Linked DNA regions of Homo sapiens: all the other regions are linked to region 2. Evidence: fine-mapped expression QTL. A gene starts in region 2. Each other region holds a variant in brackets. All regions are shown on one strand. Distances are from middle to middle.

Region 1 (10,839 bases), 30 kb after region 2:
TTTCTTCAAGGCCCTGGGATAGTAGCAACAGTCTGCACAGTCCAGCCAGCCCTATCAGAATGAGCCAAGCAAGGGTCTAGGGTTCTTGGACAATGGGAAGGATGGAACAGGAGGAGGGTTGGCAAGGAGGCTCTAAGGAGCACTTGGCTCAGACAGGTTACATCTGCATCCCTGCCAGGCCTCCTCCAAGGCCTGCCTTCTGGCCTCCTGTTTCCTCACTCACGATTAGCCCCACACACTGGCTACTAGAGTAATTGTTGTAACAGTAATATCCCCCTGACTGTTATTTCTCTCTTTAAGTATACCCAATGTTTCCCATTGCTCATAAGATAAAATCTAGATCCCTTGGCCTAGCACTCACGCACCTCACAGCCCAGTTCCTCTGAACTTTTTCAAGTTCGTCAGCACCTCCCTTTAGTTAGCTGCAGGCCACACCATTCCTTGCCCAAACCACACGCTTTCATGCTTCTATGAGTTTGCATATGCTGTTTCCTATACCTGGAATCCCCTCTCTTCCTGTTCTTCCCATTAAAATCTCATTCATCTTTTCTATTTTAGGGGGCCTAAGACCACCCACATGATCACTGGGTCACTAGAAGAAATCACGGGTCTCAGCATAATTGACTTCACGGCTGTAGTTTATTGCAGTAAAAGAAAACACAACAAGATCTATGCAGGCAAAAGACATCAGACGGACTCTGGAGAAACCCAAGCACAGGCTTCCTCTCCCTCCCATGACACACTGAGGAAGGGACATGCTGAGCATGCTTTTTTCTCCAGCAGCAAAAATTGCAGCAACATGTATGTAAAGTTTCAGCCTGGGAAAGCCTGTTTGAGACTCGGAGTTTAGGGTGCGTTTTTTGTTTTGTTTTGTTTGTAATTGGGAGTTGATCACATAGGCACTCTTTGCCTAGCAACTACCAACATTTCATACTCCCATAAGGAAAATACATAAAACACATTGTGCAAAGAGTCCAGGCAAAGCAAAGCAACTTTAGCAGTTAAAGGATGTTTCAAAAGCCAAGTTCTATGACTCCAGCCAAGGGCCTACCTTGCAAGCAAGCTCTTCTAAAGATAGAAGCTTCAAGCTTGCTGTATTACTGTATTAATTCTTTTCGGCACTTTTCTTTTCCCAAACCGAAGGCTACTACACTCTTTGTAACACTTTTCTTGCCTGCAAGGTAAAGCTGATTCATGGCCTCTAGGTCCCATAGCTTCCCATGACTCCCTGTATCACAAGAGAAACCATGAGGGCCTTGTAACTGCCTGTGTATTTCCCCCTGCAGACTGTAAGCACCTTGAAGGCAGGGACTGGCATTCTGTGTTGGTGCTCCCAGGGCCACCACCCCAGAGGCAGATCTGGTGGTCCCTCAAACAGGAGAGTCAAAAGGAGCCTGAGCTCACATCCTCACTCTGCTGCCAACTGAGATCGTATTTTTCCAGGTGGCTCATTGGCGGAAAATACTTGGAATGGAGTACTGAGATACAAGCCGGGCATTTGGCGAGGCATCTTGAAGTGCCCAGGTGAACCAGGAGAGGGACAGAGATATCACTGGCTGGCGAATAATGCTTAGCCTCACCTTAGGAGAAGGACACTAGTAAGATGCTACTGGGAAGAGATGAGGCAGAGGAAGGGCTGCCTCAAAGTTCTGTACTTTTAGTTATAAACAGGAGGCCAAGATGGGCAGATCACGAGGTCAGGAGATTGAGACCATCCTGGCCAACATGGTGAAACCCTGTCTCTACTAAAAATATAAAAATTAGCCAGGGGTGGTGACGGGTGCCTGTAATCCCAGCTACTCGGGAGGCTGAGACAGGAGAATCACTTGAACCCGAGAGGCAGAGGTTGCAGTGGGCCCAGATTGTGCCACTGCACTCCAGCCTGGGGACAGAATGAGACTCCATCTGAAAAAAAGAAAAAGAAAAAAAAAAAAAGAAAAAAGAAAAACAGGGTTTATACCCCATCCTCTGGACTTTGGTGTCCAGGTGACCTGCATTGGAATTTCAGCTTCACCATTTCCTGTGATATCTAGCAAGTGTCTTAGCTTCTCCGAGACTCGGTTGACTCATTTGTAACATGGGAATAATACCTCCTTCACGAGGCTATTGTCAAGGTCACCTGAACTAAGACACATACAGCATTTAGCTTAGCACCTGCCCAGCACCCAGTCAGTGGAGCTGGTTGTGACTGCCATCCTCATAGTCACTGAATGATTATTGTTGGAATGTGGGGCTCAATTTGCCCTGCTCCCTTGAGCAATGAGCAGAGGAAAGGCTTCCTGAGTGTCAGGTTCTGCCTGGCTATGCCCATCCTTTGGGCAGCAGTTCCAGTTGCCACAGGAGTATTTGGCTTGGACCCCAGGGCTCCCTCACATCGCTCAGGCCAGTGTGGCCAGTTGGACTTACCCTGGGAAAACATTTACCATCTCTTGCCAAATAAAAAACACCCCCAGAGACTTGTACGTAACCATGGCAACTGCTTTCTGAGCAGGATTATTGTTACTTTATCAGAAAGTTCTCTTTTCCTTCAGCTTTTAGATGCTCCAAAGTTCACTGAATTTTTAAATGTGGTTTTATTATATCTTGGAACTAAATCTTTTTGTGCTAGAAACTGTTCCCCAATCAGTAATGAAAGCCTCCAAGAAAGAGTCTAGAAATCTCTCCCAAAGCAAAGACAACTTATATTCCCCCAAGTTGCCCACCACCATTGCCTACTTTTGCCCCTAGTGAATATCATCTGGGAAGTCCATGTCTTCTTGCTATGGATGACCAGTTTCGTCTCCTGGGTCTTCTCTAAGCTGCTCCACCCACAGAACCCAGGGGAAGCAGAAACTGTGGACTCTTCAGAGTAGGGACCTGCCAGATTCAACTCTGCAGCTGAGCTTCCTGGGCACCAAGCACAGATAAATGGTGAGTAGTTAGTTCAAGCCCATCCCAGCTTTCCAGACTGAGGGTGAGATTTTTTAACCTCCTTGGGCTCCAGTTTCCTCTTTGTAAAGGGGCTGATGATGTAAGTTAACAGTCTAACACATCGTTATGCATCCAATAAGGGCTCTATAACTGAATAAATGAATGCTTTAACTAATTAATTCCTTGCTGTGCCTCTTGCAAGTTTCCAATGAAGAAATGACCACAGAAATTCATTATAAGCTGCAAAGTGCTCCTAAGTGCATGTGAGCGTTGTTTAGGGTCGTTGTGGCTAATAATGAGAATGCCACCAGCAGCTGGCCCACCCTGCCAGCAGAAGTGCCTCCTGCTAACCCTGCTCCGCTGTGCTCAGCTTTTCCATGCCTGCCTTGATCATCCGTGCTCCTCACAGAGGAGAGCCCATGAGCCCAGCCTTGATAGATAACACTCCGCGCTCTTCCACCCTGTCTTTCTTCCTGGTGTCCTTACACCCTCTGGCTTCTCAGGGTTCACACTAAAAGCCACCGCCTACAGGGAAGGGTGAAGGAGAGAACATAAATGGCAAAGCCAAGATCTGGGAATGGTGAGGATATGGTTTGGATATTTGTCCCCTGTAAATCTCAGGTTGAAATGTGATCCCCAGTGTTGGAGGGGGGGCCTTACGGGAGCCATTTGGGTTATGGGGGCAGATCCCTCATGAACGGCTTGGTGCCCTTCCCAAGCTCATCACTTACCGAGAGACCTGACGGTTAAAAAGAGTCTGGGAGGCCGGGCGCAGTAGCTCACGCCTGTAAATCCCAGCACTTTGGGAGGTCAAGGCAGGTGGATCACCAGAGGCCAGGAGTTCAAGACCAGCCTGGCCAACATGGTGAAACCCCATCTCTACTAAAAATACAAAAATTAGCTGGGCATGGTGGCAGGCACCTGTAATCCCGATTACTTGGGAGGCTGAGGCAGGAGAGTCGCTTGAACCTGGGAGGTGGAGGTTGCAGTGAGCTGAGATTGTGCCATTGCACTCCAGCCTGGGCGACAGAGTGAGACTCCATCTCAAAAGAAGAAAAAAGTCTGGGACCTCCCTACCCCCTCTCTTGCTCCTTCCCTGGCCATGTGACACACCTCCTCCGCTCTACCTTCCACGACGATCTTAAGCTTCCTGAGGCCTCACCAGAAGCAGATGCCAGCACTATGCCTCTTGCTCAGTCTGTAGAACCATGAGCCAAAAATAAGCCTTTTTTTCTTTTCTTTCTTTCTTTTTTTTTTTTTTTGTAAATTACCCAGCCTTAGGTATTCCTTTACAGCAATGCAAAACGAACAGGTGGTTTATCTGACTTCATCTTGTTGTTGTCCAGGGAGAAATAAAACCCTGGGGGTTTCTCCATGAATTAACCTGTCCCCAGAAAAAAATGGCCATGCCAGCCCTTCACCCCTTGAGGTTTAGAGCCTGCATAGAGGACATTCTTTTCCCAACTGCTTTAAGGTGAATGAGTCCTTGGATAGTAGAGGAGAGGAACAAGGTGTCCGAGCCCAGACGGGAGGCTCCAGCCTGTTCCCGACACAGAAGCCGGTGGCAGC[G/A]CCATGGGGGAGCCGCCATATGCAGCTCGACAGGCTGCTCACAGCGGGGCCAGACGGTGCTGGACGGTTTCCAGCAAACACAGAGACAGAGGCATTCGACCTGGAGGTGGTGTCAAGGGGACAGCATGTGTTGCTGCGCTCCAAGGAGCTACTTAGAGGGTTAACCCTTCTCGGAAAAGGAAGGAGCCAGCTCTTGCCCTTACACCAGTGTCTCTCCCACTTGCTCCACTAAGACAATCGCCATTTTACAGCCAGGGAAATTGAGGCTCGGAGTAGTTGAGCAAATTGCTTAAGGGCCACAGCTAATAACTGGCCTGGTGACTGCTGGAATGCCACCCCAGGGATGCTGTGGTCCCACCTCTGGCTCTCTTCTGCTCCAGGAAGACCCTGCCAAGGTGGGAGCCCAGCCTTAGAAGAGCCTTGGAGGAAGGGCTGCTGAGGTGAAGGTCAGAGCACACTGGGAAACAGGAAGGTGCTAAAGGGGTGTGGGGAAGGCACACTGTCCAGCCAGAAAACAGCCTGAACCAGAAAGCTGGGGGCCACCCCCTTGGAAAAGGCGCCTTCTCTTTACTTACTTAACAAGGATAAGTTATTTATACACACACCACCGATGCCCAGGCTGGGCCCGAAGTCGGCATCCAGTGAACCCCGGCTTCATCCATGAATGACACTATCTTGGGAAGCGCACCGGCTAGAACAGCTCCAGTGAGGTCGCCTTTTACCCTATTATCCTGCTGGTGTTAGTGTCTAAAATTAGCTGGTCGATACTGTAAATACTGCTGAAAGGTCAGGCCTCCTGGAGCCCGCAGTGGGGGAAGTCTCAGCGCTGAGTGACTTTGACCAAGTGAGAAAACACAGCGGTTTAAAATTTCAAAGCTGGCTCAGAAAGAGCTCAAGCCTGGGTTGTCTAAAATTTCTCCCTTCCTCGACCACCGATGACCAATGTCACCAAGTCCTGCTTACTCAACCCCAAGAGCAGCCCTTACGTCATCTGCCCGCCCCTGTCTTAGCCCTGGCCACACCATTCTCACCTGGACAATTGCTCAGCTTCCCTTCTCACTGGCCTGCCTGGCCCTCCATCCAACCCTCCAAACTGGCCCCTCACAAATCTTCATAAAGAACACTTATTATTGGCTGGGTGCGGTGGCTCACACCTGTAATCCCAGCACTTTGGGAGGCTGAGATAGGCAGATCTCTTGAGGTCAGGAGTTCGAGACCAGTCTGGCCAACATGATGAAACCCCATCTCTACTAAAAAGAAAAAAATTAGCCTGGTGTAGGGGTGGGCACCTGTAATCCCAGCTACTCAGGAGGCTGAGACATGAGAATTGCTTGAACCGGGGAGATGGAGGTTGCAGTGAGCCGAGATTCTACCACTGCACTCCAGCCTGGGCAATAAAGCAAGACTCAGTCTCAAAAAAAAAAAAAAACGTGTTATTATTTTTATTATTAAGTTATGTGAGCATTTAATGAGGGATTAATACATGCCAAGCCCAGCACCAAGCACTTTATACACTTCTCAAAATAATCCTAGGACAAAGCGACTATTATCATCCATGCTATCATCTGAATGTGTCCCCCAAAATCTATGTGTTGGAAACTTAATCCCCAGTGCAATGGTGTTAGGAGGTGGAGTGTTTGGGGAGGTGTTCAGTTCATGAGGGCTCCACCCTCATGAATGGATTAATGCTGCTATAAAAAGGGCCTGCAGGAGTGAGCTCATTCCCTCCTGCTCCTCCACCTTCCACCATGTGAGGGCACAGTCAGAAGGCCCACACCAGATGCTACGGCCTTGATCTTGGACTTCTCAGCCCCCAGAACTGTGGGAGAATATATTAATATTTCCGTTCTTCATAACTTACCCAGTCTCAAGTATTTCTGTTATGGCAGCACAAAATAGACTAAGACATTCTACAGCTAGTGAAACTGAGGCTCGGAGTAGTTGACTAAATTGCTTAAGGACCGTGGCTTATTAATAAGTAGCAGACCTGGGGTTCCAACATAGCTCTGTTTGACTCTGTGGTCCTTATTCTTAACCTCCACACCCTACGGAACAGCCCTAATGCCAGATGTAAATTAGGCACGGCTCCCTCAAAGAGCTCAGTGTCTCAAGAGACAAATAGGCCCAGAGAGAACTTATAAAGCAATAAGACAGAGCCTGTTCAAAAGGAATAAGGGGCTGTCAGAGATGATACATTCACCTGGCTGGGGTCGCTGGAGGGGGACCTGCCACCTCACTGAGGACTTTGCTGGAGGGGGCATGGGATGAGAAGGACATTTTGTGCAAAGGGAACAGCATATTGGGGGTTTTGGTAAACAGGGTAAAACTGAGAGTTATGACCTGGTAGCAGAAGAAGTAACAGCAATGAAGTAGGGAGAAGCGGTATGACTAACAAGCATCTTACACATCATCTGTCCCCATTACACTTTGCCTCCAAGCCAGATCCTTGCCACGGATATTCTTATCTCCCTGCATGGCCGTTCCATTTTCCAGATGCTCAGACCAAAGAGCTTGGTGTCATCCTTCACTCCTCTTTGTCTTTCATCTCATATCTGGGCCATCAGCAAATTTATTCACCTCTACTTTCAAACTCTATCCAGGATCTGATCGCTTCTCACCACCCCCTCTGCCCCCACACCTGGTCCAAGCGGAGCCACCATGACTTTGCCCCTGGATGATTGCAGTCACCTCTGAACTTGTTTTTACCTCTGCAGTCTGTTTTTCATAGTGACCAGAGTGACTTTTTTTTTTTTTTTGAGACAGGGTCTTGCTCTGTTGCCCAGGCTGGAGTGCAGTGGTGTGACCTTGGCTCACTGGAACCTCTGCCTCCCGGGTTCAATTCTGCCTCAGCCTCCTGAGTAGCTAAGGTTATAAGCACCCACCACCATGCCCGGCTAATTTTTGTATTTTTAGTAGACACAGAGTTTCACCATGTTGGCCAGGCTGGTCTCGAACTCCTGACCTCAAGTGATCCACCCGCCTCAGCCTCCCAGAGTGCTAGGATTACAGGCATGAGCCACCACGCCCGGCCCAGAGTGACTCTTTTTAAAAGTAAGTCAGATTGTGTCACTCTTCTGCAGAAAACCCTCCCATCGGAGTAAGTCAGAGCAAAAGGCAGATCCTGACAGTGATCTGCAGTGGCTGGTGGAATCTGCCCCACCTTGAGCCCCTGAGCTGTCTTTCTTGTCCCTTTGCCCTCCCCGCTCTGGCCACACTGGCCCGCCAGCTCTTCCTAGACATTCTGGCATGTGCCCGCTTAAGTCCCTGCATCTATTGTTCCCCTTGCCTGGTACCCACACAACTCACCTTCTCACTTCCTTCAGGTAGGTGTGCACTTGGTCACTTTCTCACCGGGGCCTTCTCTAGCCATGCTCTTTAAAATCTGAACCTTCAGGCCAGGTGCAGTGGCTCCTGCGTGTAATCTCAGCACTCTGGGAGGCCAAGGCAGGTGGATCACCAGAGGTCAGGAGTTCGAGACCAGCCTGGCCAACATGGCGAAACCCCATCTCTATGAAAAAAAAAGCAAAAATTAGCCAGGCTTGGTTGCCTGTGCCTGTAATCCCAGCTACTTGGGAGGCTGAGGCTGGAGAATCGCTTGAACTCAGGAGGCGGAGGTTGCAGTGAGCTGAGATCGTGCCACTGCACTCCAGCCTGGGGAATAGAGCGAGACTCAGCCTCCAAAAACAACAAAAGCAAACAAACAAACAAAAAAGACAGAGGAAGCTTTGCTCACTTACCCACCACTCACCTCCAGTGGTGCAGCCTGCTTCCTAACAGGCCACAGACAACTACCAGTCTGTGGCCTCGGGGTTGGGGAACCCTGAGTTACACCATGCAACACCCATCTACCCATGTTTCCTGAACAGACTCCCTCCTTTCACACCTCTGAACCTTGATCAGGCCGTCCCTTTCCCCAGTCACTCTGCGTGGGCCTGGCCTGTCCCAAGGCCCAGCCCTATCTACTCTTACCTTCCCCAGGAAGCCATCCTTCAAAGTTCTCCCTCAAATTCCCTGGCTCTCTGCTCAATCGACTTCGTACCAGAACTAGTTATTGGTTTATTAGCTTATTTCTGTTTCCCAGTTAGACTGTGAGCTCAAATAGGGCCCAGAGGGGGTCCTCACCGGGGGTGGGGCTCTGCAGCCGCCTGCTCGAAGCATGGCAGCACCTGATCAATGTTGGAGTAACTGGATTACAGTAGAGGAACTGAGGGGAGCAGCCACCTCGCCCTCAACTCCTCTTCCTATCAGATATCTAACTGCTCCTCTAGGATAGGAATTAATTGTATCAAGTGAGATTTTCCTAGCCAAAAAAAAAGCCAATTTAGGGTTTTCAAAATAATTGCAGTTCTGTGTTATATCCCATTTGGGGGAGGTGACAGGATGCAGATAAACAAACCCAAAGCAAGCAGCAGAGGTGTCACCGTTTCTCTTAATAAAGGATGCACTGCATTGCTTAAGATCACTTACAAGGTGCCCTCCCACCAGCTGAGATTCCTTCAAATGCCTAGATATCCCCACCCACCACAGTGGGGCTCAGAGCAGGAGTCCCGGGCCCCCTGGCTCTGCGTTGAGTCCTGGCCGCCTGCAGGATCTCCAGGTCAGCGTTTGCCCAGGAGCTACCAGCCACCCAGCCAGTGTCTGCTGCCTCCCTCACCTTCAAAGCCCATCCTCTGCTGGCTTCAGTGTATCTCCAGCTGGAGGGTCATATCAGCCACCTTGCTGGTTTCCCTGCTTCCCCAGAACCTTCGTCCAGTCCCTCCTTCGAGCTAAGTAGCATGGGGGAATCTTTCTGGAATAAACATCTGAACATGCCCTTCTCTCCTTCGTCACTTGTAAAATTCTTTCTCTTCCTTCAAAACCCAGCTTGAATGTTACCCCATCTGTAAGAACTTTCTTTGCCTTTCCAAAGTTAAAGCTACTCCTTTGACACCTGTGTTTCTCTTTGTAATGCTTGTTACTTTGTGTAGGCTTGTTTTGACACGTCTAACCTCCCTGCCATGAGCCCTTAAACAACTGGGCAGAGATGTTGGAGGAATTCTCTGTGTTCCTGGAGCCACAAAGATGGGAGGATGGAGGGGAGCCTGTCTCTTCTGCCTCTTGATTGTGACCACAGTTCCCCATGAAGGCTTGTCTGCCACTCACAGGGTCTGCTGCAACTCTCTGGCTTGGAGGTACCACTAGTGCTAAGAAGGGTTGGCAGTGCCAGCCACGCAAACCGAGTTCAGAGCAAGATGCTGTCCCGGTGAGGGGCCTGGAAAGTGGAAGCACCTGGTGAGAGCCGGGAGGCGGCAGAGGCTGCTTGGAAATGCAGTGGTCCAGAGCTTACCCTCAGAGCTTACAGAAGCTCCTGGTGGAGGATCAGAGCCTGGGGAGACAGCTGCTCCTCACCCACCAGGCTGTGAGCTCCTCCAGGACAGGGATAATTGGCTTGCTCTGTGTCCCCAGTGTCTCCTAACGCAGAGCTGAGCATGAAGAGTGTTTGTTGGACAGAACTAAAGGCATGCTGCCTGGCTTGCTGCCAGAGTTGGGGCAGAGAGAAGAGAACCTACAGAGTGGGGATGGTGGGGCCTGGAGCTGCAGGGTGGGAGAAGTCAGGGGCTGACACACACACCACAAGCGCCCTGAGCCCAGCCTTCTGCACCACCTGCCACCTCTCCAGCCATTAACAATCCCAACACTGCTCTACTGAGATAGAGCTGCCTTTTTCAGAGCCCTGAGGTGCATACACTTTCTTACAGTGTGTTAGACACCTTTTGTGAGCAGGTAATGTGGTGCCCCGTACATCTGTAGGAGGCACAAAACAGCGACCCTGGTGTCCTGTCTGGGGCCTGATTTTTCCCAGCTCTGCTGGAGGCTGCTGTCAGCAGTGGATTTTCAGAGCATGTGGCTGAGAAATAGCCACAGCAAATTCTACACAGGGACTGTCTCTGCAAGATGGGCTTTCAGCAGAGCTTCACTGTCTTCCTATACTTTTCAATGTCTTCCTAACAGTGGCAATATGCTCACAATATTTTAGTAACCAGAAAATGCAATAACAAATGTCATCTTTTCATGTAAAGAGATGGAGAGTAGGGCCGAGGTGGCACAGGGGCATTCCAGAAGGCTCGCGTGAGGTGGGAGTGGGGGAAAGCACCCATATTCCTGGAGTAGAGGATGGTTACATTGACTTGAGGGCCAGGATCCACTCAGGTGCAGTGGGAGATGCAGATGTAACCGAAGGATGGCCCCACCTGTGAAAGGCGCTGAGGGCCAGGTGAGAGGCATGGACTTGATCATGAAGGAGAGGTAGGAGCCACCAGGGGCCCTGAGCTGGGGAGCTCCTGAGTCAATGCTGTGCTTTGATGGGCCGCTCTGGCCACA
Region 2 (10,839 bases):
GGGTGGCTTGGGCTGGTCAGGTGGCCACTTCTCAGCCAGGCTAGGGGTCCAGAGACTGAGGGGTGGCAGCAGGGAGAGGAGAGGAGGCAGTCCCTGGGGCTGGGGGCTGCAAGATAGAACTCGGAGCTGGCCCAGGTGCAGCCAGTGGCCACTGGGGTTCAGTCAGATGACTCAACCTCCCCGTGACCCCCGGTCAGAGAGAACAGGCAGAGGCAGCTGAAGGGAAAATGACACCAGACATCCCCAGAAGGATCTCAGCTACTGTGGCAGCTGCAGCAAGGGCTGCAAACCTCTTGGGACTTGGAGCTGCCTGCTCTTTGCAGGGCAGGAGCCCCAGCGACAAGAATAGGGCCCAGAACGTTGCTCTCTAGACAAGGTGATGGGCATCTGGGTCCTAGAAGCTCGAAGCCTCAGCCTCAGTGACTGGCAGCCAGGGGGTCTCAGCTTCAGGACCCGGGCAGAGTACATGCAGGAGCCTCCAGCTGGGCTCACAGCTCCTGGATTCCCCTCCTGTGACTTTCCCCTTGCCCCTGCCCCTACCCCGCTCAGGCATAGCGCCTGGCTTCTGTACCCCATCCCCTCTCCAAAAGACTGTCCCCTTTCCATCTAAGAAAGTGATCTTTCTAATATGAGGAGCTAATGATGCCACAGCCTGTAATGGCTTCCCAGGGATTGACAAGCAAGCCCTGTATCCCACCAGAGCATCACCTGGTTAGCGAGAGAGGCGTCAAGCACCCTCACGCATGCCCTTCCACCAGCCAGGGATGCTTGTGCCCCATCTCACGGCTCTGAAATGCTTCAGGCCATCAAGGTTCAGCTCCCATGCCTCCTCTTCCATGAAGCCTCCCTGATCTCTGGAGCAGAACCACTCCTCAGTGCTAGGCACTAAGCAGCAAGGCTGCTGCTACAAACTGTGCCTGGGTAGTGTGTGGTCTTGAGTCAGGGTTCCCTGCTAATGTCCCTACCTCTCCTTCCAGCCTGTAGGCCTGTCAAAGGCACAGTCAGTGCCTCTGCCCACCTCTGGGTGGGGCACAGGGAATGCCCCTGAAAATAAGTGCCTGCTGGACTGGACATCCTTCGATGCTCAGGGCCATGCTGCCATTACTGACAGGCCTAACAACTCTGGGTCTTGGAGACTGAGAAAAAGCAAGAGACCCACTAAACAAAAATCTGTTGGGCCCTTTGGGGGAACAAGGTCTGGGAAATGCAAATGGGGTGGGATCCCTGTCTTTGATGAGGCAAATCTCTTGAGAGTTTGAACTTCAGAGCTTGAAAAAAGATTCAAAATTTTAATATGTTGCTAAAAGGGTATAAAACATAATAGGTCAAAACTCCATTCCACACAAAGGAGGGAAACCTCTTCAATTAACCCACTGTTGGGGTTCATATAAATAAAAAATTTAACATACCATATTAGAGTTCCAGGTACTTTCACCAACTGTCAAGTGCATTGGATGAATGATCAGATGAACAAATGAATGAGTGATCTTCCCACAAATCTGTGAGGCCAAAATCATTATCGTCCCCATCATACAGATGCAGAATCTGAGACAGAGAAGGCCAATTAACTTGAACAAATACAAACGGCTATTGCTAAGTCGCTCTGATTCCAGAGCATATCATCACCAGCCATATCACATGGTCTTCATGTGTGCAATACCAAGGACAGAGATCCTTCCAAGCACCATGCTGGAGGCTGGGTCCACACAGAAAGACACAGCACCAGCGCCGGGGCCGGCATTTTTCCTTTCCTGGTGCCTGATTTGGAGCCTTTCTCACTTTTGAAACAGCCAGTCGCAACCTTTTCCAGCCTATCTCTGGGTTATCTCTTTTATTTTTATTTATTTTTCAAGAAGGAGTCTCGCTCTGTCGCCCAAGCTAGAATGTAGTGGCATGATCTTGGCTCACCGCAACCTCCGCCTCCTGGGTTCAAGCGATTTTCCTGCCTCAGCCTCCCTAGTAGCTGGGATTACAGGCACACACCACCATGCCCAGCTAATTTTTGTATTTTTAGTAGAGATGGGGTTTTGCCATGTTTGCCAGGCTGGTCTCAAACTCCTGGACTCAGGTGATCTGCCCACCTTGGCTTCCAAAACACCAGAATTACAGGTGTGAGCCACCACGCCTGGCCTGGGCTATCTCTTTTATAGAATCTTATTTTGTTTACTTATTCATGTGTTTCTTCCACCTGGTGCTGAAAGCTTAAGGGTCGTCTCAAGCCCATCCCAGAATCTGGAAGGTAAACAGGTGTTGAAACCCCACGGAGTGAGTTGGATACAGGTGGACAAGTGAGTGGAGTGCCCAACCAAAGTCAGACCTGCCCAACTTGATGCTGCCACTGGGCACTCGGGCTATGGGAGAGAGGCCAAGACAGCCTGCTGCACATCCTTGTCCTCAGAATACTCTCGACCCCCTCATGTCAAGGGAGCCACTCTCTAGAAGGGAGCTCACATCTCCAGGGGCTTCCGGCAGCAAAGGAAGGGAAGCGAAGTGAAGGGGAGGGGCCTTAACAGCTACCAGCAGGTGCACTGTATTTCATAGCTGATGAAATGAATCCAGCCCATTCTTCCATCCACTTCTCACATCCACACCAGGAGGCAGGGCATATGCAGAGTTCCTCCCTGACCACATTCTCCAAGTGGCACACTTCCGATAATTTTTCAGGCCGTATGTCAGCACGATTGTCAAAGCCATGATGAGGAGAGATTAAAGGAAGAATGTGAAGGCCAGACCAGGAGGCCCAGGGAGAAGGTGGTGAGCGGAAAGCCACATTCATTCCCTCATTCCCCAGATGAGCAGCCCTGGATGTTAGGGCCCAGCTCTGGCCCTGCTAGTGTATATGATTATCACCTGCATTTTAAGGCCTAAGGCCCTGAAGGTCTAAACACTGAGCTGCCCCAAAGTCCTTGGCCTTGACCTCATTGTACCTCCAGAGAAAGAGTCAGGGAGCTGGTCTCACCAAGGCTGATGGGGGTCTGAGCTGGATGGGAGTACAAGCTTGGAGCTTCTATAATGAGAAACACCACTTCCCTAGAGGCCCTGCTCGGAGGGGTTCCATCAGGGCCTGGAGGCTCTGGATTCAGAGGCTCTGAGTCGCCTGCTCAGGCTGATGCCATAAGGAACCAGCTCTGTGACTCATTCCCCAGTGCTCTGGCCAAACTGATCAGGTTGGAGGCTCAAGCTTCAGCAGCAGACCCACTAGTGGCACTGAATATCCACTTCTGCTCGGTTAGGAAGACAGGAGGAAGAGACAGGAGTCTGGCCTTCTGCCTTATCCCAGCTTCTCTTCACTTCCAACCAGACATGCCACAGGCCACAGGGCAGTACCCCATAGGGCACAATGCCCACTGAAGAGAGGGATCCCCTCACCCCAGAAGAAGGCATTTTTACAGAGGAGCTGTGGAAATGGCCCTGCTGAGGCCTGGAGGATGCAGCCACAGGTGAGAGCCTTCTGGCGGAGAAGATGAGGCAGTCAGGCTCAGCCACCAGCCCAACCACCGCCAAGCCTCCTTCAGATCCCATGCCTGGGAGAGCTCCTGCTCTTCCTCCTAGAAACCCTGAGCTCTGGCAGCCGGTTGAGGCCCCTTCCCGGAGGATCTCCTGAGGGCCAATCTAAGTGTGTGGGGGTGGGGGCATGATTGAGAGAGACAAACCTCATTCTCCCATAGCCCAAGGAAACCTCCCCTAGCTCTCTCCCCAGCACCTGCAGCCACCAGGAGTGGGTGATTGCAAACAGCGCAGGGCAAGCCAGCTTTATATCTCCTGTAACTTTCACTCCCCACCACCCTCACTTTCTGTGCCTGACAACCTAGGCAAATCAGAGGAAAAAAGAAAGGCCCCCACTCCTGATGCCAAAGTGGGATAAACCAAGTGCCTCCATAAACCTAAGCATGCTGTTCCAGCAACAAGAGGGATGCGGGTATCTCATGTTAGAAAAGTACAGCGGAGTCCTGCATCTGTCCATCTTGGGAGCTGCAGGGGCAGGGCCAGTGTGGGGAGCAGCTGGATCCCAGTGCAGGGCTATGAGGCTAGAACTCCTATATGAGCCTTCCCACTGCTCAGCGGAAGGAAGAGCGGTCCCCTTCCCCACCCGCATTCCCGATCAGCAGAGCAGGCATCATCCCAGGCGCACAAATGCTCAGGAAAACCACCAGCGAGGTTACCCGGAGGCAGGGGACCCAGCCAGGTACGTACGCTCCTGAGTAGCCAAGAAAAACGCAATTTAGCAACCTTCAGTCGTGAGTCTCCGTCCACACCTACGAAGACGCAAAGCTCTACACTAGGTAATTTTCTGGACAAAATACATACGTTTTGCTTTTGCCTCTGCCTCTGTTCAAGTTCACCAAGAGACGGAGCAAACCCTCCGCTGACCGGAAGCCTCTCTTGGTAGCGGAACGAGAGGGAGCTGCTTCTGGGTAAACGTCGCCGCCTAGGAGGGAAGCTGTGCGCACCCCACACCCTGCCCTCGCCCCCTCCCCGGGACCAACCGCAGCGCCCTCCCGGGTGACGGACGGGCTCTCAGGACTCCGGAGGGGGACGCGGCTCGTGCGGCGCCTCGCGCACCCCCACCCCATCCCGGCCGCGCCGAGCGCCGCCCCCGCCCCCCCACAACCCCTGCACGCACCCGCTCACTCTCCCCTGCCCCGGCCGAGCCGCCCCGGGCCCCCGGGAAGGTGCCCCCGGCAAGCCCGCCCTGCAGCCGGAGCAGGTGCAGCCCCGCCGCGCTCCCAACCGCGTCTGCACAAACTTGTTTGCCCGCGGCAAGGGGAACACCCTGCTCGCAGCCCGCGCGGGGGTCCGGCTGGAGCGCCGAGAGACAGGACTCACCCCGCGATCGCGGCCGGCTGGGGCGCCCGCACCCGCGCCCATGGCCCGCCTTCCCCGGGCGCCGAGCCCGCAGCCCCCCGCAGTGCCCGGAGCCCAGAAGCCCCGGCGCCCGCACGTCTCCGGCCGCCCGCGGCAAGCGGACCCACGCGCCCGGGCACAGGGCGCCGCCGCCTGGCTCCCCGGGGCTGCTGGCGTCCGGGCTGAACGGCGGGGCGGGCGGGCGGGCGCGGAGCCGGGGCGGGCAGCGGGCGGGCGAGCGGGCGCCGGGCTCTGCACATGCTCACTCGCGCGGCCCGGGGACAGCGGCCGGCCGCCGCCGGGTCCTAGAGGCGCCGGTGCGCACCTCCCGCCGCCCGGGGGAGGGGTCGCGGCTCCGCCGGAGGGGGCCCACGCCCTGCCCCGGCCCGCGAGAACACGCGCGCGGGGCGGGCCACACGCGCCACTGCCGAGCAGAGACGCCGCCACCCACTCTGATACACACACACACACACACACACACCAGTCACCCAGAGCCACAGCCTTTCACCGGGGCCCCACGGGCTCTAACACACGCACCATGACGCTCACACCCAGACACAGACCCACAAACACACGGGGCACTGCCGCGCAGAGGAGAGCACGCCGCCACTCTCCCATGCAGACTCACAGCGACAGCCGCACACTGCCTGACACACACATCCCGAATCACTGCTTCCCAGAGACACCGACACCCACACTCACACACACACTCTCTGGGCTCTGCCCCACTCACCCAGAAGCAGACTGGGCCACTGTGACAGGCACGCACACGTACACACACAGCCACACAGTTTAGAGTGCACTCTAATACACACACACACCACACACGCACGCACACACACACACACACACACACACACCGGATCACCGTCCCATGCAGAGCTAGAGACAGACGGTCACAGCTTCACACACATTCACACTCAGAAACAAGCACCTGCTGGAACACAGACACTCTCACACAATCTGAGACAGACCTACACAGAATTGCAGCCCTACAAATACCCTGACACCAGCTCCCGCGTCTACACACTCGGGGGTCGGCCGCCGGCTTATCATACTGCTCCACACCGCACACAGTGACAAACCCACGCCTTGACATAGTTGCCCACAGAAGCAATGTCACACACTGGTGTCTACTAACAGACACACTCTCAGAGGGGCATACTGGGCATTGACCCACAGGCTCTCTCTCTCTCTCTCTCTCTCACACACACACACACACACACACACACACACACACACACGCACCGAGGTGGAAAGAGGCTGAACAGTCACACAAGTCTATACACAATCCCCCTCTTTAAATAAAGGCTGGATCCAAACCTAAAGATTTTTCCCAGGGAGGAGCCCCACCCTGTTCCCCCAAAGCCGCCAAGTCACAGCATCTGCCCTGCTCTGCCATGTGCACCGGTGGACCCTGTCCTCACCCGGAGCTGGCTGCTAAGATGCTCCCAGAAGCTGAGGACAGCAGAGGCAGCAGGAGCAGGTGGTGGTGCCTCTTACTCCGTCTTCCTAAAAGGGAGTTTCATGCCTCCGACTCCCGCTAGGGGCAGAGCTGCTTGGCCTGGCTCCGAGGAGCTGGCTTGCAACAGGTGCAGGTGGCAGGGAAAGCGTTTGCCTGGGGACCAGTCACAGTCCCTCCTTACGCGGGTCAGTCAGGTGGCGCCCAGAGCGGGAAGAGACTCGCTGCAGTTTGCATAGCTATGTCTGGCCAAGTGCAGAATTAGAACAGAGTCTGCACCATCCGCATGAAGGCAGAATGCTCTGAAGGTCTTGGGGCACCTGGATTTAATATCCTTAAGCCCAGGAAGAGGATACAGTAAGTGAGAGACGAATTCTGTGCTGCCTCAGAGTCCCAACCTTGCAGAAAAGCCCCCTTCACATATATATCCTTTACAGAATGTGAATGTGTGTGTCGTTACGATTTATAACAGCAACCCACTGTGCAGTCTCGCAATGCTGTTTGGTTTGCAAAGCCCTCTCCATGACCAGCTACATAATTTGAAGGGCCTAAAATAAAAATGGAGCCCCCTTTTAAAACACTATCAAGAATTTCGAGAGATAAAAGGAGGATATTAAACCAGTACGGGTCCCTTCTGAGCACAGAATTCAGAGCCTTTCACAGATCTCATACCCATGAAGCCAGCCCTGGCCCTCTCGTACCCATTGTCCCACTTAAAACTGATAAGTCTATAGATGCCTTCATGTGCCCATTTGACAGATGAGGCTTTCAGGTGGGTGATCACAAAAGGCTCACAGCCAGTTGAGCCCAGGGGAATTCAAGCCCAGCTCCTCTGGGAAGCCAGACATTTCCCGGCAGCTGCTATTCAGAAGTGTCCATCTGCAGCAGCAGACACTTGGTACAGAATAATCAAGCAGAAGAGTTGATGTGGCTGCCACCAGGGAAGGAGGTGACTCAAGAAGAAAAAGCAAAAGGCTGCTGGGTATCCATGCCATCTGTGCTCGATGTCACGCTGCACCTGCCCTGCAAAGCACCCCACCAGGGGAACACCATACAGCCCCTGTGTGGGTAGAAGCTAGAGTCAACTACTGACTCTAGGGAGGGAGGTTGAGGAAGGAGGCGCATGAAAGAACCCAGGAAGTAATTGAGAAGGGCTTGGGAGTCAACACGGCCAGGAGTATTTCAGTGTCAGGACAAAGCCCTTCTTTCTAGTGATGGTGACCAGTAAGAAGTGATAGGGAGGACTGATAACAGAGTCACTCCTAATCACAGTCCAACTCCTTGTCCCTCAGCTCTTCTCTCCACATAGTTGGGACTGTTTCATAGTAACTTGTATACCATCCCTGTCCCAAAAGCAATTGGTCCCACAATGCTGCCATCATATGTCCATTTACTGCTGAGAAATGTATCCCCCCACCCCCCAGGAGTCTGGGACTAAGAATCAGACAGGTCTGATGTCACATCAATCCCATCTCTCTGTGTTTCGCTCTTGAGTCATCCGCTCCTCTCTTTGCAGACCTCAACTATTGGATCCTAGGTATTTACATCACCTCCTTACTTCACGTCATCTGATAGCTTATTCTTCCTTCCTTCCAGCCACCCATCTTTTCATGTATTTACTAAGCAAGGCACCCATTGTGTGTTAGATTTTGTGTTGAACACTGGAGAGTCTTTGATAAAAAAGAACCGGTCCCCTGCAGGAGTTTCCAGTGTGAAGAACTGGACGAGAAAACAGACCAAAGTGAAAACATACCACAAAGAGAGAGCTCTGCTGTATCAGTCAGGATGCCTGCAGCCTCAAGTAACAAATAGCAAAGTAAAAGTGGTGTCAAGCAAAGGGTTTATGATCTCAGACAGCAAGACGCCTGGAGGTAGGCAGTTCCAAGGTTGGGTGATTCAGTCACTCAATGATGTCAGAATCTGTGGTGGCCTCTCTGTGCTCCCTGGACCGCCCCCTCATGACTGCAAAATGACAACTGAAGCGCTGTTCGTGACTTCCCCAAATGACAATACCCTAAGGCAAGAAAGAAAGGGACACTTCTTCCCACAAGTTTCTTTTTTCACTGGATAAGGAAACTTTTGCCAGATCCTCCTTCTGGCAAGGCCCATTGGCCAGAAGTGAACCCTGTGAGTACCCCTCAGCCAATACCTGGCCAAGGAGGAATGGGTTTGGCTAATTATAATTCATCCTCTGGGGATAGGCCAGTCATCTCAGAGCGCATCCCCACTTGATCAAAATTGTTTCTATGTTAGTAGATGGCTGCTGGGATGGCAACTAGCTGTGATGATAGATAGATAGATAGATAGATAGAGAGATAGATAGAGAGATAGATAGAGCGAGCATTGGAACCTAAATGACTCGCAACCTCAGTGTGGAGGAATTCAGGGAAGGCTTCCTGGAGGAGGTGACATGTAAGCTGGCTTTTAGAGGAGAAGTGGGCATCATCTGGGTCACCAGGTGCAGGGGCCATTCCAGACAAGGGTGGGGGGCATCCTTTGCAAAGGCAGGGAAGTGTGAAACACACAGGCTGTCACAGAAACTGCCAGTGACTTTGCACTAGCTGGTGCAAGGTCAGAGGTGGTTGGAGAGGAGGCTGAACTGTGACTGGCCACTGAACCCCGACTAGCCACTGAACCCCCATTCAGGCCACTGGCACCAGTGGACAAGGCAGGGCTGTGGACCACGCTTGAGCCACCACTATGATGAGCTCCCTTCACGGTGGTCATCTAGTCATCATCAGCCGTGGAAATGGTCATTCAACCAGTTATGAGTCATCAGCCATCCTACACTTCTATGTCATGTTGACAAAGGCAGCCTGACTAGTCATAGGCATGGGGGTGACAAGCCCACGTGGGGGTGAGGGCCGGGCGTGGGGCTCATATCTCTCTCGCCTTGACCAAGTCACAATCTCTCTGGGCCTCAACACTGTCATCTGCAAATCAGAGAAAATGCCTCCTTTATGGGAGTGCTTGTAAGGACCAAATAAAATGTCTGTTGAGTGTGAAGCAAAACAACATTTGCCATGGAATACGCACATAACACATTTTAGTAAATATTACAAGAAGGGGTTTTCCCCAAAGCTTTGCTAAAATCCAGAAATGCCACATGTGCAATGTTCTACTGAGCCACCAAGCTTGTGATACGTTCTCTTCCTCCACATGCCACCGCCCCAGAGCCTGCCCTGTCATTCTGGCTAAAGCATCCACCTCACTGTCCAGTTTCCAGTCTTCATGGAACATTGCCCTATCATCTCTTTGTGTGTTTGTTGGTTTATGATCTGTTGTCTCCTTCCCAACCCTCACAGCCCCCACTGCTAGAATTTAAGCTCTAATATGGCCCGGGAACTTACTATCACATTCAGAACTTTATCCTTGGTGCCAAGTTGAATTCTTGGTACATAGGCATACTTACTAAATATTTATTAAATAAATAATTGTGTTTTTAAAAACATGATGTGCCTAGCATGACATATTTTTAATAAACCCAAGAAGGCTTCCCACAGTCGTCATGTTTCTTCCCAAGAATTCAAGAGGCTGCTTCCCCTTGCTCTGGTCACAGACTGATCCCTGTATCCAGTCCATTGGATTCTACTGGCCACCAGGGAGACCCAGAGGATGAGTGCGGATGGCTCACTGCACCGCGTGCCCCTGCCAGGGACCGTGGTGGGATGAGGAAGCAGGTGCTCCATCGACACCCAGAGGCACCTCAGTAATCTCCTTTACCCATGCAGCTTGGCTGTATGCTCCACCAAGATGTTGGCCCACAAGGTGACACGGGCTTGACTGTCTCACCTGTGAAGGTTGCCTTTTGCTCCTCTGGACACTGCCTCATCTGAAAAAGCATCATTCAGAGATGGAGAGAAACTTTGGCAACATCTCCAAAGTGGAGATGCAGTTTCTTCTTTCTTTGCTTTGCTTTTTCCCCGCATAGTGCTGAGAAGTATTCGATGCCTGCTCCATGCAGGCAGATCTGAGGCTGGGTTCGGCACTTTGCTGGGCTGTGTATTTACTTGCTTTCTCCTGTGAGTGCTGCAGCGACTTAAATATGCCTCTGTAAAGATGCCAGTGACACAGATGGTAATTGTACCCCCTGCTGAGCTGTGCCTGCAGACACAGGGGTGTCAGGGGTGGGAGGGCGGCAGGGAGAAGTGGAATAGGTAATCTGTACCTGACTGGGAAGGGAGGAGCCTCCCGGATCACTGGTCTGGTCTAGAGGCAACTAGACTTCCTAGGCATGGGCCATTGGTACCCAGAAAGCTTCAGTAATTCACAGGTGGCAAAGAGAGCACAGTGAGGAAGCCTGAGTTCCTTTTCTGGCTAGAGGTGAATAGGCTATGTGGTCTTATGCAAACCTTACCTCTCTGAGTCCTGTTTTGCCCTTCTGTAAAATGGGCAGGTTTTCTAGTTGCTCCTGAAGAGCCTTTCTTTAAGGAAGGCAGGGGAATAAGACGAGAGTGATTTGGGGCCAGTCGTGCTTTTTTAGTTTGGGAAAATGACATCATTTTCCCAGATGTAGTTTTTTAATCTGCAAA
Region 3 (10,839 bases), 67 kb before region 2:
TAAAGGAATGGAGTAGAGAATTTGAACTAGCAAGCATGAGTGCTTAGGTCAAAGTCAGGATCAGTACTGATATCATGCTAATGCTGCATAACAAACCAACCCCAAATTCAGTGGCTTAAAATAGTATTTATTTTCATAATCATGGGTTTGCAGGCTGATTACAGTATGGCTGACCTAGACTGGTCTCAGCTGGGTGGCTTTGCTTCAGGCTACAGGTTGACTGGACATGGCTCTAGGATACAGGATAGCTTCAGGTCCATTTTACATGTTTCTTTTGGGGTGCAGTCTGAGGTGGCAGCATCTACCTGGCACCTGAACTTTTCACGGTGGGTCATTGCAGTGCAGAAAGAAAAAAAAAATTGCACCAGAACATTTCAAGCCTCTGATTACATCACATTCACTAACATCTCATTGAACCAAACAAGTCATATTGTCAGCCCAAACAAGTCGTATTTTCAACTCAAAAGTAAAGAAGTGGGGAAGTATACTGTATAGATCATGAGGCCATGGAAACGGCGTACAAGTAAAATTCTATTACAAAGTAGTGAAGAGTTGGAAACAAAAATTCAGTCTATCACTAAGAAACCATAGGGGTAAAGAGGAGGAAACGGATAAGTGAGATGATAAGCAGGAGCTGGAGGTGGAGACAGAAGGGGGAGAATCCGTGCTACATCTAGGTGACTGAGTCGGGGTTTTAATCCCACGAAACAAAGGGCAAGAGCCACCACAGTAGAGTCATCCCAAGGCACTACAAACATCCTGCAATGCAAAAGTGTCACAGTAGCACATAATGTACTCTGTAATCATGCAGAAAGACATAATTTCCTGAGTGCTATTAGGTCTGCTGATGAGAGGAGAGACCACACAAGCTAAGCGGAGGTGTGGGTGGAGGAGGTTGACTAGATCCGTGCACCACCTATGCAACTCCAGCCACCCCAGGCCAGCTCCCTCCTCACCCTACTGCCTTCTGACCTCTGCTCCCTGGCTCTCACCCGGTCATCAGTGATTTCTTCCAGGCTAAATCCAATGGACGCTTACGGGACCTTCTCTTACTTTGATCATCTGTAGCCTGTGACACTGTCAATCATGTCCTCCCTGAAAGTCCCAATCCTCTTGAATTCTGTCTTGTAATTCTTATTTGCATTTTCCTCCTATCTCCCTGAATTTCTTCTCGGTGTCTTTTCGAGGCTCATTCAAATTTTCAAGGAGGAAAATGTTGGCGACTGAGCTAGAGAAAAGAAGCGTTTGGCAGTAAATGGTCCAAAAATATTTTGCTTTGGAAGCAACTAGAGCCTCACACTAACAATGCCTGCTGTAATATGGAATATGGAGAGTGAGCTCGTCTGGGACAAACTGCCATATTTGAAGAGTGACACTCCCATTTGAACAGTGACACTCCCCACCGCCCCATCTCACAATAATAAATGGAGATACAGGCTCAAGCCAGTATTGACCGCATCATCATTTCCACCTCCCTTCTGAGTTTCTGAGGGTAGGCTTTGTGTTAAATCATCTAAGTCTCCTACCCAGCCAGCCCCGGCACAGGACCTGGCAAGCAGTAGGTATGCTGTATTGATTGTGTCCAGTTATATCCAATATATATTATATTGGATTAGTCTCTCTATATAATATTCTACATATATAATATTTATATATTAATGCAAATATTTATATTTATATATTTTCATATTATTCATATCATTGATATATTATTTTATATATTTATGTAATTTTATATTATTTTTAATATATATAATTTAAAATATAAAATAATATAAAATTACATAAAAATATATAAAATAATTTTATAGTTTATGTAAATATTTATATTTATGTAATATTTACATATTTTATTCTTATTTACATATTTTTAATTTTGTATAATTCATATAAAATATTACATATAATATTTATTAATATAATATATTATTATATAATATTTATAATATTGCTATTGATAAATATTAAATATAATATTAATATTAATAAATATTTATTTATTGCATATGCAGAGGGGAGGGGGCACAGCTTTGAGCTGAAAAGTATAAAATGTGCTTCTCCATCTATAACAACCATCCACCTACCTTTCCACTCCATCTCCCCTTACCTTTCACCTGCCGGCACTCCACTATAATCACTGTCAGGTTAATCTAACCAAACATACCTCCGTTGCCTTAGCTCCACCTTCCTTCATCATTCAAAGTTCAGCTCAAATACCACTTCTTCCATGAAGCCTTTCCTGATTTTCCAGGAGGAAGCAACCACTTTGCCTCTGAACACCTTTAGCCCTTTCTCCAAATCTCTTCTGGAGCATGTACTACTACCCACCTTGCATCACCATGGTTTCTGCCTGCTGCTTGGAGACTTCCTCACTTGATGGCCAGTTCCCTGCAGCCGGGAATTTCTTTCAAGTTTTGACTTAACCCCAGTATTGAGCCAATGATTTGAATAGAGCAGGTCCTCAATAAATCAATAAATAGTTGAATAACAAACAAATTGAGGTAGGAGTGGCAATCTGGGGAAAAACAGTTATATGTTCTTAAAAACTCCTATTCCAAGTTTGTAGTTTTGGAAAAAGAAAAGTAAAATCAGTTTTTATTGAATCCATCTCCTCTCTGCAGAATTATTTTGTGGTCTGTTTCATTGGGCCAATTACATTTATGAAGACGAATTACGACAGGCGAGAACCCACTTACATGGATTACTGTGTGCTAACTATGTAATTAGCGGCCGGTGACTAAGAGGGGAGTTTTTGGATATTTCCATAAGAGAAAAACACATTATGATCCATAAAAAACAATGAGCAATGATAATTTCATTTTTATTGGTCATTTAAAAACATTCACTGATAATTCTCCCCATGCTTAATAGGCATACGTTTGCTGCCTTCAAAATATACTCATAAACTTGTCGCAGAAAGCACCGTTACATAATCATTCAGCCTTGCTTCCATTATGAAACCTAAATGAAATACTTTCAAAGATAAAAAGTGTGGAGAGCTTCAAGGGCATTGAAACAGGTGGTAGCAGTTATCCTGAATCAGCAGGGCTTTCCTGGGAACCTGGCATGGGCCAGGCCCAGGACTAACTGCTGCATTGTTCTGGAGCCAAGGGAGTTTCACACCTGAGAGGGTTTATCCTCTGTTTTGCATTTGAATTAGAAAAGAATAAGTCCCTGTAACCAGCATCCCATCCTTTCCATAATCAAGAGGACAGCTGGAAGTCCTTTCAAGGGACCTGGACCCCAAGGCCAGGCCAAAGGCAGGTGCGTAGCAGGTGATAGGAGATCTGAACTACATGAATGAATGATGAAGGCTGGGTGTTGAAATGAATGAATGTTGAAGGCTGGGTGTCCAAAGAATGGTTAGTTGGATGGATGAATGGATGGATGGACTCAGTTGAATTGAATGGAACGTCTGGCATGCTGTCCCTTGAGGTTCTGGCAGAGACTGCACTGGTTCACAGCAAATCTGGAAAGAGAACCAGATTCTCGGGCACCCAGGAGGCAGTGACAGTCTCCAGAGCTGCCTCTCAAATTCAGAAAGGAAAACTCTTTCATGTGTTTTCAAAACCACTGTATAAAATTATTTCAATCTTCCTAACTGGAAATTAAATCCTCCACATGAAAGGCCTTTTTCCTTTCTTTGTGTTCCTTTTGGCCATGCAATTCTGTTCTCTGGCCCCTGACTGACACCTGGCCCCAAAGCCCACTTTCCTATTGTGTACAAGGCCAGAAACCCATTAAGGATGTACATGGAGATTGAGGAGCTAATGTCGGCTCTCAGATCTCAGAAGGAAGAATCCAGCTCCCAGGCCTTTAGGACATGCTGATTTCTTTCCAGAAACAAGATCCATCAATTGACTTGTGCTTTGAAGTGCTTGGAAGCCTGACAAATTTTCTGAGCCTGGTATGTGTGTGTATGCGTTTATGTGTGAGACCAAAAGGGTGTGTGTGCATGTGTGATTGAGTATATGTGTGAATGTGTGTACATATGAGCGTATGTGTTTGTGTGCGTGTGTGAGAAAGTGTGTTCACACGTGTATAAGTGTGTGTTTATGTGTGAGACCAGAAGCATGTGTATGCATGTTTATGTTTGCACATGTGTACGTACATGTATGCATGTGTGCGTATGTACGTGTGAAAGTGTGTTTATATGTGCTGTGCACATGTATATGTGCATGAATGACTCAGCTGCCACTGAGTATCTGTGTTATCTCCAGAATTCTCCCTGTGTGGGGCAAGTGCAGAGGAGGGAGGACAGGGAAAGCTCCAGGGCTTGCCCCCTCCTTCTGAGCACCAGCAAGACAGGTGACCACCAGCAGGCAGGTGGGCCAAGTCCCTGTCTCCATGTTGGCCCTGGCCAAGCCCCAGGTGATGCGGCCCCTCCCTTCTGCACCAGCAACCTCAGTTCTGCCAGCACCTGTGGTTCCC[G/A]CAGCTGCAGCCTGGCCTCCAAACGGACGTGGCCTGCTCACCATCTGCCCTTTCTCCTGTTTCCTACATTGCACCTGGCTTTCTTCTGCTCCCCAAACATTTCCAGCCTGTACAGCTCTCTGATACTGGGCAGCAGCCTTAGAACCAATATTTGTCCCAGGAAGATCATGTTGGGAGTATAATGAGCCCAAGCCACTCATCCCTGTTGGCCTGGGCACAGCTCTAAGGTCCTGTCCTCCTGAACGTTAGTCAAAGCATTGTCCTGGACTAAAAAGGATGAGACATTCTCCTCCATATCCCTCAGGAGTAGGTTTGGAATGACACCCATTGGTGAAATGTGTTCATGAGATTTCCCCAACAAGGGGAGGGCAATGATTGGATGATGGAAGAGAATGCTCACTATCATTGCTTGAGTTCTAGGAAATGCCTTGCTTTCATCAATGGAGTGGATGATTTTTCTCTGTTGCCTGACTTTTTTTTCCTTATTACTCATTTGTTCATGAATGCATTTGCTTTTTAATTCAACAAACATTTACTGAGCACCTTTAGAAGCCAGTGGGTCAGAGTGGTTACCTGAGGAACAAGGCAGCCTGGGCTCAAATCCCAGCTTCACCATTTCCACGTGGCCTCTCTGAATCCCCTTTCCTTACCTGTTAAATAGGAGTAAATATAGTACCTGCCTCATAAGATTGTCTGAGGATTAAACAAAGTCATGTTTTAACCCCCCCATAAATATAGCAACTATTACCCTATTACCATTGATGTTGTCATTGCCACTATTCCTTTTTTTTTTTTTTTTTTTTTTTTTTTTTTGAGATGGAGTCTCTCTCTGTCGCCCACTCTGGGGTGCAAAAGCACGATCTCAGCTCACTGCAACCTCCACTGCCCGGATTCAAGCAATTCTCCTGCTTCAGTCTCCCAAGTAGCTGGGATTACAGGTGTGTGCCACCACACCTGGCTAATTTTTTTTGTATTTTTAGTAGAGACAGGATTTCACCATGTTGGCCAGGCTGGTCACAAACTTCTGACCTCAAGTGATCGATCTGCCTGCCTTGGCCTCCCAAAGTGCTGGGATTACAGGTGTGAGCCACTGCACCTGGCCTGTCATTATTACTTTGAGCCAAATAATGAGTTGGTGCTGTAGAAACAGATGTAAATAACATTGCCACTGCCCCACAGGAGCTCACAGGCCAGTTGCAAAAGCAGATATGAAAAAATGCCAGTGATGGTTAGAAGCCGAATGGTGGAAATGGAACTGTGGGGATTCCAGAGGAGAAGCCCATTCATTCAGCCTGGGAGAGCAGAGAATGCTCCCTGGAGGAGGCAGATTCATTCAAGTTGGACCTTGAACGATATTTAAGATTTGAATAGTCAGAGAAGGGGAAGAAAGACATACTAGGCAGGTGGAAGAGGTACCATGTGGAGTGGCTGAAGCATCAATGCAAGACTGCATCCATGCAAAATGATGGTTATGTGGGCAGGTTGCAGAGGGCTTTGAGTGCCAAGCCAAGTGGAGCCTGTGGGTTTTATTCTCCTGGGCCATGGTGAGTGGTTTCAGCAACTCAAACAAGAGAAGGATTGGATCTGATCATTACCGAGGGTAAAACTTGCCATTATAAAAATGAATATGCCTACCTAAGACTGAGAAATATTGGCTGGAATAAGTGACCAGATTTTCAATTCTTTGTCTGTGGGGGTTTGCTTCCTGCCGGAGGCAAAGGGGCCAAGAAGGATGATGTCACAGGGGCCGTGGGATGCCTCATGTCCAGAGCAGGCAGCCAAATCGTGCTTACCGGAGACCAAGCGGCCGGGGAGATGAAGAAAGCATTTAGCACCATATACCAAACTTCCTTCGATCTCTACAGCCCCAGTGGGCTCCTTGAGATCTGGGGAAGCTATAGAAGGGAAACTGAGGCACAGAGGGACTAATAATATAGCAAGTTGGAGCTAGATAGTCCTGAGTCTGCATCCCCTTTCTACCTGTTAACTAGTTGTGTGACCTCAGGGACAAATCGCTTGACTTTTCTGAGGCCCCATTTTCTTATCTGCAAAACAGGATAATAATGGTAACTATTGGCCAGGCGCGGTGGTTCATGCCTGTAATCCCAGCACTTTGGTAGGCCAAGGCGGGTGGATCACCTGAGTTCAGGAGTTCGAGACCAGCCTGTCCAACATGGTGAAACCCTGTCTCTACTAAACATACAAAAAAATGTAGCTGGGCATGGTAGTGGGGTGCGTGTAATCCCAGCTATTCAGGAGGCTGAGGCAGGAGAATCGCTTGAACCTGGGAGGTGGAGGTTGCAGTGAGCTGAGATTGTACCATTGCACTCCAGCCTGGATTACAAGAGCGAAACTCCATCTCAATAATAATAATAACTACTTCACAGGGTGATAGTGAGGTTGCAGTGAGAGAATATAGAGTGTTTCTGTCAAGCTGCTGTGTGTGCATTAAATGCTCACCAGATGGTAGCTGTTGGAAGAGCTCCGGAGACTTTGGAGAGGCTTGGCGCCTAGGCTTTCCTAACCTCTCACTTCCCCTTCCTCCCTTAGTCCTTGCTGATTGTCCTCTGACCAGGCTGCCATCCACCCCAGGAATAGCCAGAGAAGAGTGGGAATGAAAAGTGTAGATACTTGCCTGGGAGTTTTACAGTCAGAGAAAACCAAAGCATAGCACGTATTTTTCACCACTTCTCCGAAGAGGGTAGGATATGCATCATACCTTTTTTTCCTAAGTCCTTTGAAATTTTAGCTATAAATGGTAAAACACATCGATGAATTTCCCCATGAATATTTGTTGAAATGGCACTTTTAATACGAAGCCATTTGAAAAGTGAACCTCCAAGGAAAATGCATTTTGTGCAGCCATGGATCTTAAAATATTTACTATGAATATGCTCATCTTAGAAATATTACACACTGCTTTTTTATTATTTGTTCTGGATGAAATCGCAGGGATTTGGCTTAGATGGTTTTTACAAGCTAAACAGTATTGGCAAGATGATTTTCTGGACTCTATTCAACTTTCTTTCTTTCCAGTTCTTGATGTGTTGGTTTCTGGCAATTTTTTCAAAGATGTCTCTGGGATTTGCAAACAGTCAGTGAATGGGGGCTAAGCACACACCTGCTAACAGATAAGTTATGAAAAAAAATAATTTGAGAAATATGGACACTTGAGCTAGAACAATCCTAGAGGTTGTCTGATCCGATGCCTTTGCTTATACATGAAGGTGGCCTGAACGCCATTTCTCACCCCTCTGATCAGATTGGCAAAAGTTGAAAAGAGTAATAACTCTTAAAATCTTTACAGATGCAGGAAATAAGTGTTTCATACATTGCTGGTGGCGGGGACATGAATTGCTACAGACAATGTGGAGAGCAGACCACCCATATCAGTTAAAATTAAAACTAGACAAACCCTTTGAATCAGGAATTGTACTTCTGGGAATCTGTCCTATAGAACAAAAAGCACGGCCGGACATGGTGGCTCATGTCTGCAATCCCAGCACTTTGGGAGGCCAAGGCAGACAGATCACGAGGCCAGGAGTTCGAGACCAGCCTGATATGGTGAAACCCCGTCTCTACTAAAAATACAGAAATTAGCCAGGCATGCTGGCGGGTGCCTGTAATCCCAGCTACTCAGGAGGCCTAGGCAGGAGAATCGCTTGAATCCAGGAGGCGGAGGTTGCAGTGAGTGGAGATCACGCCACTGCACTCCAGCCTGGGCGACAGAGCGAGACTCCATCTCAAAAAAAATAAAATAAATAAAAATAAAAAAGCACTAGTATGTAAATATCTGTGTAGAGTAATGCTTGTCAAAGCATAGTTTGTAGTGGTACCTGCTGCAGCGTCTAAGAACAGCCTGGATATCCATCAAAAGGGAAATGTGTGAATAAGTTGTTCCCTGATTCTGTAGACTAGTGGTCTCTAAGCATTTCTGATTGCTCATTTGATGATAGCATGCACTTCCAAAAGATGGATATTTATTTGCATGTGTGAATACCTTAAGTGTAGGATAAACAAACAGAAAATAGAAATTTTAAAGAGAAGAGATCAAAATAAATAGAGATAAAATTTTTCATATGTTTTCCTTGTGCCGGTACAGTGTATACACCTCATTCTGGAGATTCCCAACTAGAGAATATTAGATTTGCCTTCAAAGGAATGAACGTTTTGCATCATTTAAGGGCAAATTGAATAGAAAACACAGAAAAATCATTTTATTACATTTTTGCAAAAACAAATGATGGCCCCCAAATTTTTATATCTATATCTATAGACATATAGACACAGACAGAAATATAGATATATACACATACGCTTTTATATATTTATATGTGAATGGTGTGATAATGGTGTGAATGGATACTACCAGGCTGTCACTGGTTACTATATCAGGGGGCTGAACGGGAAAGTAGGAAAAGGAGAAGAATTGGGGAAAAATAAGATACAAAAACTATAGGCCGGGCACAGTGGCTCACACCTGTAACACCAGCACTTTGGGAGGCTGAGGTGGGAGGATCAGTTGAGGTCAGGAGTTTGAGACTAGCCTGGCCAACATGGTCTGTACTAAAAATGCCAAAATTTGGCTAGGGGCAGTGGCTCACGCCTGTAATCCCAGCACTTTGGGAGGCCGAGGTGGGCAGGTCACCTGTGGTCGGGAGTTTGAGACCAGCCTGGCCGACATGGTGAAACCCCATCTCTACTAAAAATATGAAAATTAGCTGGGCATGGCAGTCCATGCCTATAATCCCAGCTACTTGGGAGACCGAAGCAAGAGAATCACTTGAACCTGGGAGGCGGAGGTTGCAATGAGCCAAGATCCGGCCACTGCACTCCAGCCTGGGCGACAAAGCAAGATTCCATCTCAAAAAAAAAAATTAGCTGGGAGTGTTGGCACACGCCTGCAGTCCCAGCTAGTCGGGAGGCTGAGAAAGAGGATCACCTGAGCCCAGAAGGTGGAGGTTGCAGCGAGCCAAGATCGCACCACTGCACTCCAGCCTGGGTGGCAAAGCAAGACCCTGCCTCAAAAAAAAAAAAAAAAAAAAAAGACTACAGAAAAATGGAAAAATATTCATGATATAATGTTAAATAAAAAAGAAAAGGTTCTATCTATTACATCATGCATTCATACAGGTAAAAAATTAGCAGGAAAAGGGAGAAGAAGGCAATGCAGACAAATGAAAGAACTGATTTGATTAGGTGCACAATTTTTGTCTTGGGTATTGGTTACCATTTTAATATTCACTTGAACAGATCCTATTTCAGCCTCTCTCTGGGTTATTTTCTTCTCAGATCTCCATCTCTCAGCACAATGATGCCATTCATTGGTCTCTTTGCAGCGATCGTCTGCGTGCCCACATCTATGCTCCATGGGCCCCACATTCCTGTGTCTTCATTTTGCGCAGCTAGCAGACAGACAGGGGTCTCCCAGGCCCAAGCCCAAGTGACCAAAAGGAGAATCCAATTGCCCAGCTCTGGTCAGGGGCCCCAGCAGTCCCGTGAGCTCTGGCCAAGGAGACAAGGTCATGAAGTCAAACCCAGATGTCAGCTCTACTGCCCTGTTTGAGTGATAGTTCTCAGGGAAAATGATAAGAGTCTTCCAAAGATGCATGGCCAGTTAGAGGTAGGGTCAGTTGTAGAGCCCGAGTTCCCCAGACCCCAGGCAGGGTCCCTTTGGAATTGCTTCATTCTCCACATCGAAGGACTGGTGACCCTAAGAAGGACTTTCTCAGTGATTTATGGGATTCAGAGAAGCAAGAGGTGTCAAAATGGGACCCAGAAAAATAGCAGTGACACAGAGCAGAATGTGGCTTTTTAAACGAGTGAAAGTAGTTGAAGGTGGCTCTGGCTTATTTCCATCTGCTGTCCTTCAATGACTGAAAATCTGCATAGAACAGTTGGCTTATGGCGTCCACTGGCCAATGCAGCTCTCAGAGCTGAGAATTTGCTCCCTTCCTGTGTATAAAACACCCTCTTCTTGGCCTCAGGCCTCGGCCTGACCCTGAGCAGGGTAAAAAGGCTCAGCCCACTGAAAGAGAGACAGAGAGAGAGAGAGAGAATGAGAACGAGTGAGGGGTCCTGGCTGGCAGAAGGCTCTGCCATTAGCTGGGGAGCTGAGGTTGGGATAAGCCCTGCTCAGCACTCAGACAGGCAGGAGCCTGCACCAGGTCCAGGCAACTTCCTTGATCAGAACTTGACAGTGCCAGAAATGGCTCCACTGCCCTTGGTTACTGGGCCATTTGAGGGGAAAATTGAATTATAATCCTAACATCCCTTGTACGTCTGGAAATTTGTCATAGTAATTAAATGCTAATAAGGCAAGAGAGATTAAACGGATAGTTTCCTTAAAGATTACACTCCACCACCAAGATCAGGTAGAAATTATAAGTAATGTAGTGGTGTAGTCAG

Alleles and levels. Positions count from the first base shown, and alleles are read on the strand shown. Sizes are in standard deviations (SD) of each study's normalised expression. Not every link is listed here.
For the expression in cerebellum of the gene that starts at base 5,101 in region 2, A is the low allele of the variant in region 3 and G is the other (moderate effect, 0.67 SD a copy in GTEx).

What was found. PIP is the estimated chance that this variant, and not a neighbour inherited with it, causes the effect.
Region 1: its variant is fine-mapped to the expression of WSCD1 in cerebellar hemisphere (GTEx, PIP above 0.99). The same link has a PIP of 0.9 or more in cerebellum.
Region 3: its variant is fine-mapped to the expression of WSCD1 in cerebellum (GTEx, PIP above 0.99). The same link has a PIP of 0.9 or more in cerebellar hemisphere.

What each region holds. Positions count from the first base shown.
Region 1 is chr17:6,035,121-6,045,959 of GRCh38, reverse strand. No RefSeq gene overlaps it. Among named protein-coding and RNA genes, the nearest start is that of WSCD1, 30 kb to the left of the region's middle. The variant G/A (reference allele first, on the strand shown) is at 4,480.
Region 2 is chr17:6,064,641-6,075,479 of GRCh38, reverse strand. WSCD1 (WSC domain containing 1) reads right to left here and starts at 5,101. Exons shown (of 9, transcript NM_015253.2): 1 at 4,828-5,101. RefSeq lists an enhancer at 5,034-5,865.
Region 3 is chr17:6,131,533-6,142,371 of GRCh38, reverse strand. No RefSeq gene overlaps it. Among named protein-coding and RNA genes, the nearest start is that of WSCD1, 67 kb to the right of the region's middle. RefSeq lists enhancers at 2,675-3,229, 6,420-6,921. The variant G/A (reference allele first, on the strand shown) is at 4,432.